Regions from separate parts of the Homo sapiens genome. Here region 2 is linked to region 1. Evidence: fine-mapped expression QTL. A gene starts in region 1. The other region holds a variant in brackets. All regions are shown on one strand. Distances are from middle to middle.

Region 1 (5,377 bases):
CGCGCCCCATCCCCCTCCGACCAGCATGAATAATTGCGAAGCGATTCGGCTGCACAGCCTGCGATGCGCCTTTCTCGCAACCCAGGCACTCCGGGAAAACAGGCGAGAAGAGAAAGAAAAGAACGCACCACCGACCTCACAACACAAATCCTCGTTTTGGCCTTACAGCGTCTGCACAATTGCGCTGCCAACACACGGTTCCTTTAACCCTGAAGACCTGGGGTATCAGTCAGCAATGGTGTTTTTGTGTCTGAGGGTTGTTGTGTTGGGTGGGGGGAAGGTTGCAAGATCTGACACGTTGCAATCGGGACCTTTCTTCTTTCTTTCTCTCTCTCTCACACACACACGCGCACACGTACACACACACACTCGCGCCTCATTGATCTTCCTACTTGTTCGGACACATTAAACATCCCGGTTTCCCCCTATCTGTCGGTCTGTCTGCCTAGTTCCCTTCCTCCTTTTCACAGCTATTATTCTGAGGACGGTGCTGGATACGCTGCACACGCGTGCCCCCGTTAGGGCGCTGAGTCGACTGCCTGGGGAAAGCTGGGTGACCTGGCTGGTAGGGGCAAAAATGAAACAAATAAATACAAAAAAGAAGCCAGGCCAGGGTGGGGTTCCCAGCACACCCCCACCCACGCACTACTATCCACGTGAATCTGGGGGTGGGCGGGTGGGGGGAGTAGAAATCGACCAGGAAGGCGTTTGCCTTGCTTGCCCTGTGCGCTCACTCAAGAGCCGTCTCCCGGAAAATAAAGAAAAAGCACAGAACAGCCCACACCTTCTTCCCCAACTATTGTTTCTCAAAGATCCCAAAGTTTCCTTCTAGCCGCGTCCCCACGGCCAAGTTTCCCGGGCTCAGGACGGCGTGTCCGGGGCGAGCTGCTGGCGTTGCTTGGCCCCGCCGGCCTCCTTCTTTGGGGGGGGGGGGGCGGCGGTGGCACCCCACGGCAACGGACGTGCAGGGGGACTGTGTCCGTAGACGTGATGGCCTGAGCCCAGTCCTGCTGCTAGAGGGAAGGAAAAAGGCGAAGTAGGAGGGAGAGAGAGAGACAGAGCCGAGCCCACGCCGTGGAGAGCTGTTTGGTTGTTATTGTTGTAGTGTGTGTCTGTGTGTTTTCTTTCTGGAACCTCTGAGCTCTGCCTATGGTTTCCAACTTTCGGCTTCTAATCCCCACCCCACCCAGGAACGAGCAACAGAAAAACAACACTTGTCTGCCTGAGAAGGCTCCGGAAAAAAAAAAAAAAAAAAGGAAGAAAAGCGACCTCAAAGAGATGAGCTCTCGGCTCAGTTGTCAGCAAACAACAACACTCCCCCGCTCCTCCGCTGGGCCATCCTCCCAGCCCCAGCCCGCCGGAGAGGACAGACCGACGCACCGACAGGCCCCTCTCCCCCTCGCCCGTCTTTGTTACATCTTTAGCAGCTTTGTGCGTGCGTGTCCTTTCTCCGGTGTCATCGGCTTTACTGCCAAGGGCTGGATGTGTATGTTGGGCGGGGGGGGGACGGGCCGAGCTCGCAACAGGGGTCGCCCAAGTGGGCGAGAAAGAAAGAACCGGGCGCCGAGGAAGAGCAGGGGCCCCCAAACTTACTTTTGTTTTCTTTCTCGATCTGCTCCAGGTAGCTGGCGGCCTCGAGCAGAATCTGCACGTTCTGCAGAAAAGTGTTGATGTGCTTCTCCATCGAGTTCTCGCTGGTGTTGAAAATGTCTGAGAAGGGGCACCTGGGCTTGGCCCCAGCGGGGTCCTCGGGCAGGGCCGGGGGCTGGGGCGCGGCCACGGCGGGGGGCACAGCCGGGGGCGCGGCGGGGGCCAGCCCCGCGCCCTCGCAGCGCGCCTCCTTGCGCGGCCGCCCGCGTTTGCCCATGGAGGAGCGGGGGTCCGCCGAGCTCGTCCTCTAACGGGGCTGCGCGGCCCGGCCGAGCTCCGGGCCCCCAGGGAGACCCGGCCGGCTGGAGCAGAGAAGGCGCCGGGGCGAAAAGCCGGCCTGACTTCCCGAGCCTCGCTGCCTGCAGTTGTGTGTGTGAGTGTATGGGAGTGTGTGTCGGTCTCGCTGTGAGTCTGTGTGTATGGGAGATTGAATGAACCTACAGGACAGACGGAGGCACTCTGGCGCCTGGGTCCTAGTGCGAGCCTGTCGCCATCGGACCGGTCAAAATAAAAGGTGGAGACTAGCGAGCGAGGCAGGGACCGCCCCTGCCCGTCCCCGCAGGCTTCCCTGCCTCTCCCCAAGGCTTACCACAGAGTAGAACACTGTCTTTTAACCGGAATGGAAAAAAATACCTGATGTCTCTGGGTGCACCTGCATAAAAACAAACTACTTTTTTCACAGAAAAATAATGCCTCAGAAAGTGTCCAGCACAATGCCTGGCACATAGTTAGGTCCCCATACATGGTGGCTGCTATGACTTAAAAATAAATAAATAAAAGCTCCCCAATCCAAATGGGAAGAAGGGAACCAGTGTGTAACCAGAAGATCCCCCCACCCCCAACACAAACACTCCTACTCACAGACACACATACATACGTAATCACGCACACACTTGCGAGGCACCTGTGTGTGCCTTCACACAGTCAAATGAAATCCCAGGCCGTCCAAATCCGAGTTACAGATTTACTCATGCCTTTCTCCCTTCAAATGCAAAGTTATTTTCCAGAAGTGGGAGGAGATGTCAGCATCCCTCTCCACACTCCTCTGCCCAGCCTTGGTTCAGCTGTGCAAAGCTCACACCAGGATGCCTCCACACCTGGCTCCCTTTAATTTGAGAGGCAGAAGTGGCAGCTCAGGAACCACCCCCCTCCCCAGCTGAATTCCACCTTTTGCCTCTGAAAACCCCTACCCCAGCTGACATTGTTTCACTGCCACTGCTGTCCGCAATCATGGATGCTTTCCAGCCCTGGGAAGTACTGGAGGTGTCAGGGGATGATTGAAGGCTGCTCTAGGGTGCCATAGGAAAGGGTTCAAATCCCAGCTCTGCTGCATACAGACTGTGTGAGCTTGGACAAGTCCCTTAACCTCTCTTGGCCTAAGTTTCCACATCATTGAAATGTGTGATAAGATGCTTGTGTATTGTATCTGACTTAGCACACTCTGGCCCATGGTAAGCTCTTTTTCTTCCAATCCAGACCCAGGCAAGAGCCTGAGTCCCCTATTCTGATGTAACTTGTATCTAAGAAAGGAACAAGATGTAGTGAACAAGACTCTTCTGCACTTCCTTGGAAAATATCTCTATGACAAGCCCATCTAAATATGGTTACTTTGCAAGGTCACCTGGAGTTTTCCTCCAGGGGAACCATTTATATAGAGGACAAAGACAATGCTGCCCCCTGGAGGTGTGCGATGCAGCCACCCTACTCAAAGGCAGCTTCATACACATTGTCATAAAAACTCTTGATGGCCGGACGCAGTGGCTCACGCCTGTAATCCCAGCACTTTGGGAGGCCAAAGCGGGCAGATCACCTGAGGTTGGGAGTTCGCGACCAGCCTGACCAACATAGAGAAACGCTGTCTCTACCAAAAATACAAAATTAGCCGGGCGTGGTGGCGCATGCCTGTAATCCCAGCTACTCCGGAGGCTGAGGCAGGAGAATGGCGTGAACCCGGGAGGCGGAGCTTGTAGTGAGCCGAGATAGCGCCACTGCACTCCAGCCTGGGCGACAGAGCCAGACTCCGTCTCAAAAAAAAAAAAAAAAAAAGTTTATCTTCCATTATTAGAACAATTACTGATTTTTTGCTTCTGTGAGAACCACAACCTGAGTTATTCGTGTTGAAATGCCTGTAAACATCTAAAAATGTTAGGAAGACCTCATGTATGCACAGTTTCAAACAAGCTTTCTCCAATGCCATTTTGCAAAAACTGGCCCTTGTGTGAAACAGCTCTGATCTCTCTTGCCCCAAATGAAAGATGGTACTGAGACAATGAACCAGCTAAGCCCAGAGAAAACCTTGCTTTCTCTTTAATTGCCCATTGGTGGCATGGGTCAGATGTATAGTACTGCAACATACATGCACCACCAAGACAGGCACACGCATGCATGAGTGCCATGGTGGGGGAAGGGTGTTTTGTAATTATTTATTTATCCCTGTTCCATCTCTCATAGGTCTGCGAGTTTCAGAAAGCCCAGTGGGAATCTTCAAGCTGGGCCACGGATCTGACCAAAGCCAAAATAAACAATGGCTTGAAGAAAATCTACAAAAAAGTGCTGATTTGCACTATTCCCACAGTCGGCCACAGCCCCCACCATCATTCCCATGGAAAACACCACGGCTGGTGCCAAATCAAGTTTTCCCCCCATCATAGGGGCATTGTTTTTTGTTATTATGTGAGTTCTTAGCATCAGACAATGGCACCACAAGAGACACAGTGGAAGCAGGAGAAATGCCTTTTTGTTTCACAAAGTCTGTGTTACTGTGCCCCCAGAGTCTCGCATATAGTTTAGTTGCATATATTCATTTTGGTAACACGTATGTGGAACGACGAATGTGCCAAGCTAAAGCCCGAAGCCCCCTCCTTATTTGTTTTCAGAGCCCATCAAGTGTTAAATCATATTAACATCCCATTGCTCTCTCCCTTCTCCCGCTCCGTTCCCCAATTAACAGATTTCTCTAATAAAGTTGGCCCCAACAGAAAGAGTGGTGTTTCAGGGGTTATATCACAGGACAGGCATCCAGGATGCTGGGTTACAAGCTCAGCTCCATTCCCGATTAGATTTGCTTCCCAGGAGGAGCCATTCAAACCCTTTGCAACCCCCCCTTTCTTTGGGGTTTTGATTCCAGAAGTAAACAGGCCCCTTTGGAAATGCTGAGAATTTCTGCATAGAACAGGTAGGGGATGTGAATACAGCCATTCTGATGAGAACACATGTGAACTCTTTGAAAGAAAAGCAGAAATGCCCAATGAAGTCAGCTAGAATGCTCTCAGAGGGCCCGGGATATCTTGGGTGCCCAGTCGGCCTGGGTCCTGCTTTCCCAACACTCTGTTCATTTGTTTGTTTGGCTTATTTGCTTGTTTGGCAATACCTTTCCATGGACCTTGTTTGTATATTAAAGCAAGATTGTTCTTTCTTTTATTTGCCCCTTTCCCCCCAGACGTTCTATACTCTTACATCAAAGGAGTTGTTTGGCCTATAATTATGTCTTTATGTACACAGAGGCTGGTTAATTACTGAGAAGGCGATGGATGCGTTGCCATCGAAACCTACCCACCTTGCATTGGGATGGGATGCTCTTCCCTCTGTCATGGACCATTTTGGCTCTCTTGGGTTCCTTAGCCTTGCTCTTCCTGCCTCATCTATTCCCCACTCACCAGCCTTTTCTGCCTAAATCCGTCACTCGTCCACCCTCTAGTTTCTCCTTGGACCTTGCCAAAATGTCCTA
Region 2 (5,377 bases), 76 kb before region 1:
CAAGTTTTCTGCTGCCATTAAAAATTGTGATTTTTCCAATATGAATATTCTGAATATTTGTTCTCCTTGGGAGGCTCTGCCCCACTTTTTGCTAAGTATTTGCTTAAATACAGGTCCTCTGACCCTTTTGTTCAAGTATAGTTTTGTTTTGTTTTGTTTTGTTTTAAAGAGGAGACTGCATCATGAACCCAATTTAAGAGATTGTTTGTATTGAATTGGCCCAGTGAATATTTTGCCCTGCACTGTTATGTCATGCTGGGTTCTATGAAGTGAATGAAAGTTTGACACTGGCACTGGAGTAACCCTCGTCACTCCCAATACTCGGCAGGCTGCTGTGGTCATCAATGTCACTGATGCTGGTGGTACTTATATTGTCCACTTCTCCATGGGAGAACTCTGTGCTTTCAACATCCACTTCAATCTCCTCTGCCAAAGGAAAAAAAAAAAAGAAGAACATTAATTATCGAGTATAGCGCACCTTCAAAAACTAACAGCATGAGGAAAAGAGGTATAAGAAATGTTACACAACAAGCTTATTATCAGTGATGTCTGGAGAACAGAGGAACAAGGTGAAGAGACAGGAATATTTTTTGCCAAGGGGAATGTCTGATATACAGTGGTGGTCTTAATTTAGGCAGCAAATTTCCTAAATCCTTTGACGCCAGTCCGTCTGGACCTCCCTAAAGCACTTGGCGTATTTGGGAATTAGTGCTTAATATTAAAAGGTCCCAACCCCCAAGTGGTTTAAAAACATCTGTTTTGCATTAAACCACAAACTAATTCTCAGTTCTGTTTATTAATCAGGGTTGCCTTAAAGGGTGGGCAGGAGCATAAACTTAATATAGGCAAACTAGAAAATTTACCCATCCAAGCCTTTGGTGGTGCCATTCTACAGATAGTTCAACAGACTTCTAGGATTCATCATAAAGATCTTCAACTAGTCAGTCAAACAAGTCATTATAAAGTAGAGTTTGAGGTATATGTCTTAGATTTAATTTTCTTGCATCAAATATAGCTTGAAATAAGGGCCTGAGACTTAAAAGTCTTCAGATTATAGTGAGATCCATTTTGGTGGTAGTATACAGACTTAAAAGCCAAACATTAAAAAAAAAAAACACCACAAATACATATTTGACTCAGCTATCAATAGATAATGTTGCTGGACGCAGTGGCTCACGTCCGTAATCCCAGCACTTTGGGAGGCTAAGGCAGGAAGATCACTTGAGTGCAGGAGTTTGAGACAAGCCTGGGTAACAAAGTGAGACCTCATTTCTACCAAAAAAAACACAACAACACAAAAATTAGCTGGGTATAGTGGGTGATCCAGTAGTCCCAGCTACTCGGGAGGCCAAGGTGGGAGGATCACTCTTGAGCCCAGGAGGTTGAGGCTGCAGTGTGCCAAGGTCTCACCACTGCACTTCAGCCTGTGTGACAGAGTGAGACCCTGTCTCTTAAAAATAAAAAAAAAAATCTTAATTGTTAAATACTAGATATTCAATCATCAATAATATACATAAATCAATACACATGTTAAAAACAAAAAGGAGTTAAAAAGTTGTTTTCTCCCATCAGAGCTAGAGTGAAACCCAGGATTTTTCAGTTACCTTACTTAAATTCAAAGCCTGATGTTTCACATTTGGCACTGACTTTTTAAGGGTTCACACTAATCACAACTGCTTTAAAAAAAAAAAAAAAGTGGATTCAGCCGGGTGCGGCCAAGCACTTTGGGAGGCTGAGGCAGGTGGATCACGAGGTCAGGAGTTCAAGACCAGCCTGACCAATATGGTGAAACCCCGTGTCTAGGCTAAAAATAGAAAAATTAGCTGGGCATGGTGGCACGCGCCTATAGTCCCAGCTACTTGGGAGGCTGACGCAGCAGAAACACTTGAACTTAGGAGGCAGAGGTTGCAGTGAGCCAAGATCACGCCACTGCACTCCAGCCTAGGCGACAGAGCGAGACACTCTCTCTCAAAAAAAAAAAAAAAGTGGATTCTTGTGAGGCCAAAAGGACAGGGTGAAGCTATTTCCAGGAATATACTTTTCAAAAGGGCTTGTTGCTTCAAAAGTTTTAGAGATTCTAGAGATGTTTTTAAAATGTAGGCAGCTGTCCAAATAATCTGTGAATTCATATATTGGCTCTATATCCGAATTGCTTCAGAAGCCATTGTTTCCCAGCACCACTGAACACTCATCCAACCTACAACTAGAAGATAATAACAAGGCACACTATCCAAAAGAGCATGCTGAACTCAGTCAAAATAAAGTAAAATGATGGCCAACACAGTGGCTCACACCTATAATCCCAGCACTTTGGGAAGCCAAGGCAGGAGGATTGCTTGAGCCCAGGAGTTTGAGACCACTTGGGCAACAAGGCCCATCTCTATTTTAATAAAATTTAAAAATATGTTTAAAAAAATTTTTTAAAAACCCAAAAAAACAAAGTAAAATGAGAAACTGCTTTAGCCAAGTGTACCACAGATGTTAACTAAAAGCCCCCATAACACTACAAAAAGGAGGTTGCCAGCTCAGGATAAGGATGGTACTTGGTAAGGTACC[G/A]CTAAAGTAAGGTACACTGGGAACACTAAAAAAAAATGAGAGCTATAGTGATGAAAATACACCCTCCTCTCTGAAATTTGGAGGTAGTTGGGGTGGGTACAAGGAGGAGGTAACAGGAAGGACAGCTAAAACCTAAAGACCTAAGAAGAGGTTTCCGCTAGTTAGCAATAGAGGAAAGACTGGGACACCAAGGTCAGGGTTATTTCTGCTATATTTCACTGTTACTGATAAATGTAGCATGTACTTCAGGTTCTTGCTACTGCCTCTGGTAGACTTTTCTTGAAAACTGCCACACAAAAATAAACTTTTACATAGAAAAATAACAAAACAGAAAAACAAGAACTCCTAGGGTTGTGTTAAAAAGGTTGCGTTAAAAAGGATGAAAAAACTATTTAAAAGGCTCCTACTCAGCAAATCTGGGACAGTTTGAGCATTCAAAAGAATTTAAAAGGATGACTGCAATGGATTGGAACACATTCAGTACAGCAAAACATGAGTTCATGATATAATCAAAAAATAGTAAAACCAAAACTTGTTACTTCTGGAAGCTGCTAGGTTACCAACTCTGTTTGGAAAACTGATAAAGCAAAAACCAAGACCAAGCATTTATCCCACCTTCCCTGTATGAACTTTATTTCAGGATAACCGAAAAGTTGATGAGAAAATGTTTATAGGAGAAAAACAGTTTATAAATACAAGAGGAATGACACAATTAGAAAATCACTATTTTATGACACCCAATGAAATAAGGGCAATAATTGCTAAAACTGTTAAGTTAAAGGCTATACATTTATATAAATGTATTAAAATGACCTTACCTGAACCTATTGATTAATATTAAAAGTGCAACAACAACTACACACAATACTGACATAACAGGAAGTACAAAGCACCACCTATGAAGTATTCTGCATCTACCAACCAGTTTACAGTCAATATAAAGGACATAACATGTTAAATGACACCATGAGGATTCAACCAGCCAAATCTAGGATGTAGGAAATTCTATAAGAAAAATGACTCAGTCTCTTGATGTTTAAAAAAATATGTACATATATACAACACACAGATCTATACCTATATATTCCTTCATGTTTTCTCTGCCAAAGAAGTCTTTTTGAGATGTTATGTAGAAATCAGTTTTTGTTTCTACCAAAACGGTGTAGGGGGAAGAGAAAAAATTATTATAGATTAATATCTTAAAAGGCACATCAAACAAATGCAATGTGGCCTTTGGATCCTGATTTAAACATACCAATGGTAAAATGCCATTTTTGAGACAACTGGAGAAAATGTATCACAGACTGGGTATTAGATGATATTAAAAAAGATTATCTGAATTAATTTTGTGGGGTATTATAATAGCATTATAATTACATTTTTAAAAATCCTATTTATTCAAGATACATACTAAAGTATTTAGGGGCAAAATGATGTTATCTGGGATTTGAGTTAAAGCATTCCAGAAAAAATATTGAGGGTGAGCGTAGTGAAGAACAGATGAAACAAGTTGACAGCTATTCAAACTGAATGGTGGGTATACAGGAGTTCATTATTCTATTCTAAGTATGTTTGAAAATTTCCACTTAAAAAAGTCAAAAACAAAAAACAAAATCAGAGTCCTAAAAACAAACAAACAAAAAAACTCTGTCACTTGTCTCATGTTTTAGAATCCTAAAGAGCTCATGAGCTCCTTTCTCCAAATGTAAGACTTCAAATCACCAGTGTTCACCTCTGGGATCTTTTAATGTGATATGAAGCCTGATGTGGTGGAAGCTTTGGGAAGAACAATCAGTAAAATTCAAACCATTCTTTTTTGGTTGACTTCTGTTCTTTAACTCTGTCAAAGATAAATATTCTAGGATAGATGGAAAGAGAAATAAAGGGTGTTGTACTTTAAAATCTACATATAAAAATTCACATCACCAGTAGTAAAAACTTCGACATCGTGTATCTTCCTGACACAATGGATTGAGAAAGGCACAACATCATTTCTTTTCTTTTTTTTTTTTTTGAGACGGAACCTCACTCTGTTGCCCAGGCTGGAGCGCAGTGGCATGATCTCGGCTCACTGCAAGCTCCGCCTCCCGGGTTCACGCCATTCTCCTGCCTCAGCCTCCCGAGTAGCTAGGACTACAGGCGCCTGCCACCACGCCCGTCTAATTTTTTGTATTTTTAGTAGAGACAGGATTTTACCATGTTAGCCAGGATGGCCTCGATCTCCTGACCTTGTGATCTGCCCGCCTTGGCCTCCCAGAGTGCTGGGATTACAGGCATGAGCCACCGGGCACAACATCATTTCTGTGATATTCCTTACCCCAACTGTATACCCTCAATCTAATCATTTGAAAACATCAGACAAACCTAAATTGAGGGACATTATATAATTTATAATATAAATATATAAATATATTTTTTTTCAAGGAAAAAACAAAAAGTTTTATAGTCCACACTGGCACTGCTGTAGACAATATTATGATTGCATAAAACCTACAATGTTACTCTGTTGGCTAGAAAGAAAGCAAATACAGTGCCTCCCAACATACCTTCCCTAAATCCAGATACAGAGATGTTTAGTATTTCATTAGAGAAGAGGCAAGCTGCCTACCTCGCTCTGAATCAGAACGATCTGAAGAAATAGTTGATCCAATGCTGTCCATTCGTATTCGTTCCATCTCCTGAGGACCCTGCAGCTGTTCCAGTCGCCACTTTAAAAATCTCTGTTCTCGTTCCAAATTCTCGAGCTGGTGCTGGCTTTTTCTTTCAGCTTCTTCAAGTTTCTGAAATGATGAAATGATTTTTACATTTGTGTATAGTCCAG

Alleles and levels. Positions count from the first base shown, and alleles are read on the strand shown. Sizes are in standard deviations (SD) of each study's normalised expression.
As copies of G replace A in region 2, the expression in atrial appendage of the gene that starts at base 2,071 in region 1 goes up (small effect, 0.19 SD a copy in GTEx).

What was found. PIP is the estimated chance that this variant, and not a neighbour inherited with it, causes the effect.
Region 2: its variant is the best candidate, but not a certain one, in a credible set for the expression of MXI1 in atrial appendage (GTEx, PIP 0.72).

What each region holds. Positions count from the first base shown.
Region 1 is chr10:110,204,299-110,209,675 of GRCh38, reverse strand. MXI1 (MAX interactor 1, dimerization protein) reads right to left here and starts at 2,071. Exons shown (of 6, transcript NM_130439.3): 1 at 1,594-2,071. The coding sequence starts at 1,867. RefSeq lists a silencer at 1,821-1,900 and an enhancer at 3,490-3,990.
Region 2 is chr10:110,279,873-110,285,249 of GRCh38, reverse strand. MXI1 (MAX interactor 1, dimerization protein) reads right to left here. Exons shown (of 6, transcript NM_130439.3): 5 at 5,165-5,336; 6 at 1-426. The coding sequence ends at 263. Among named protein-coding and RNA genes, the nearest start is that of SMNDC1, 22 kb to the left of the region's middle. The variant G/A (reference allele first, on the strand shown) is at 2,557.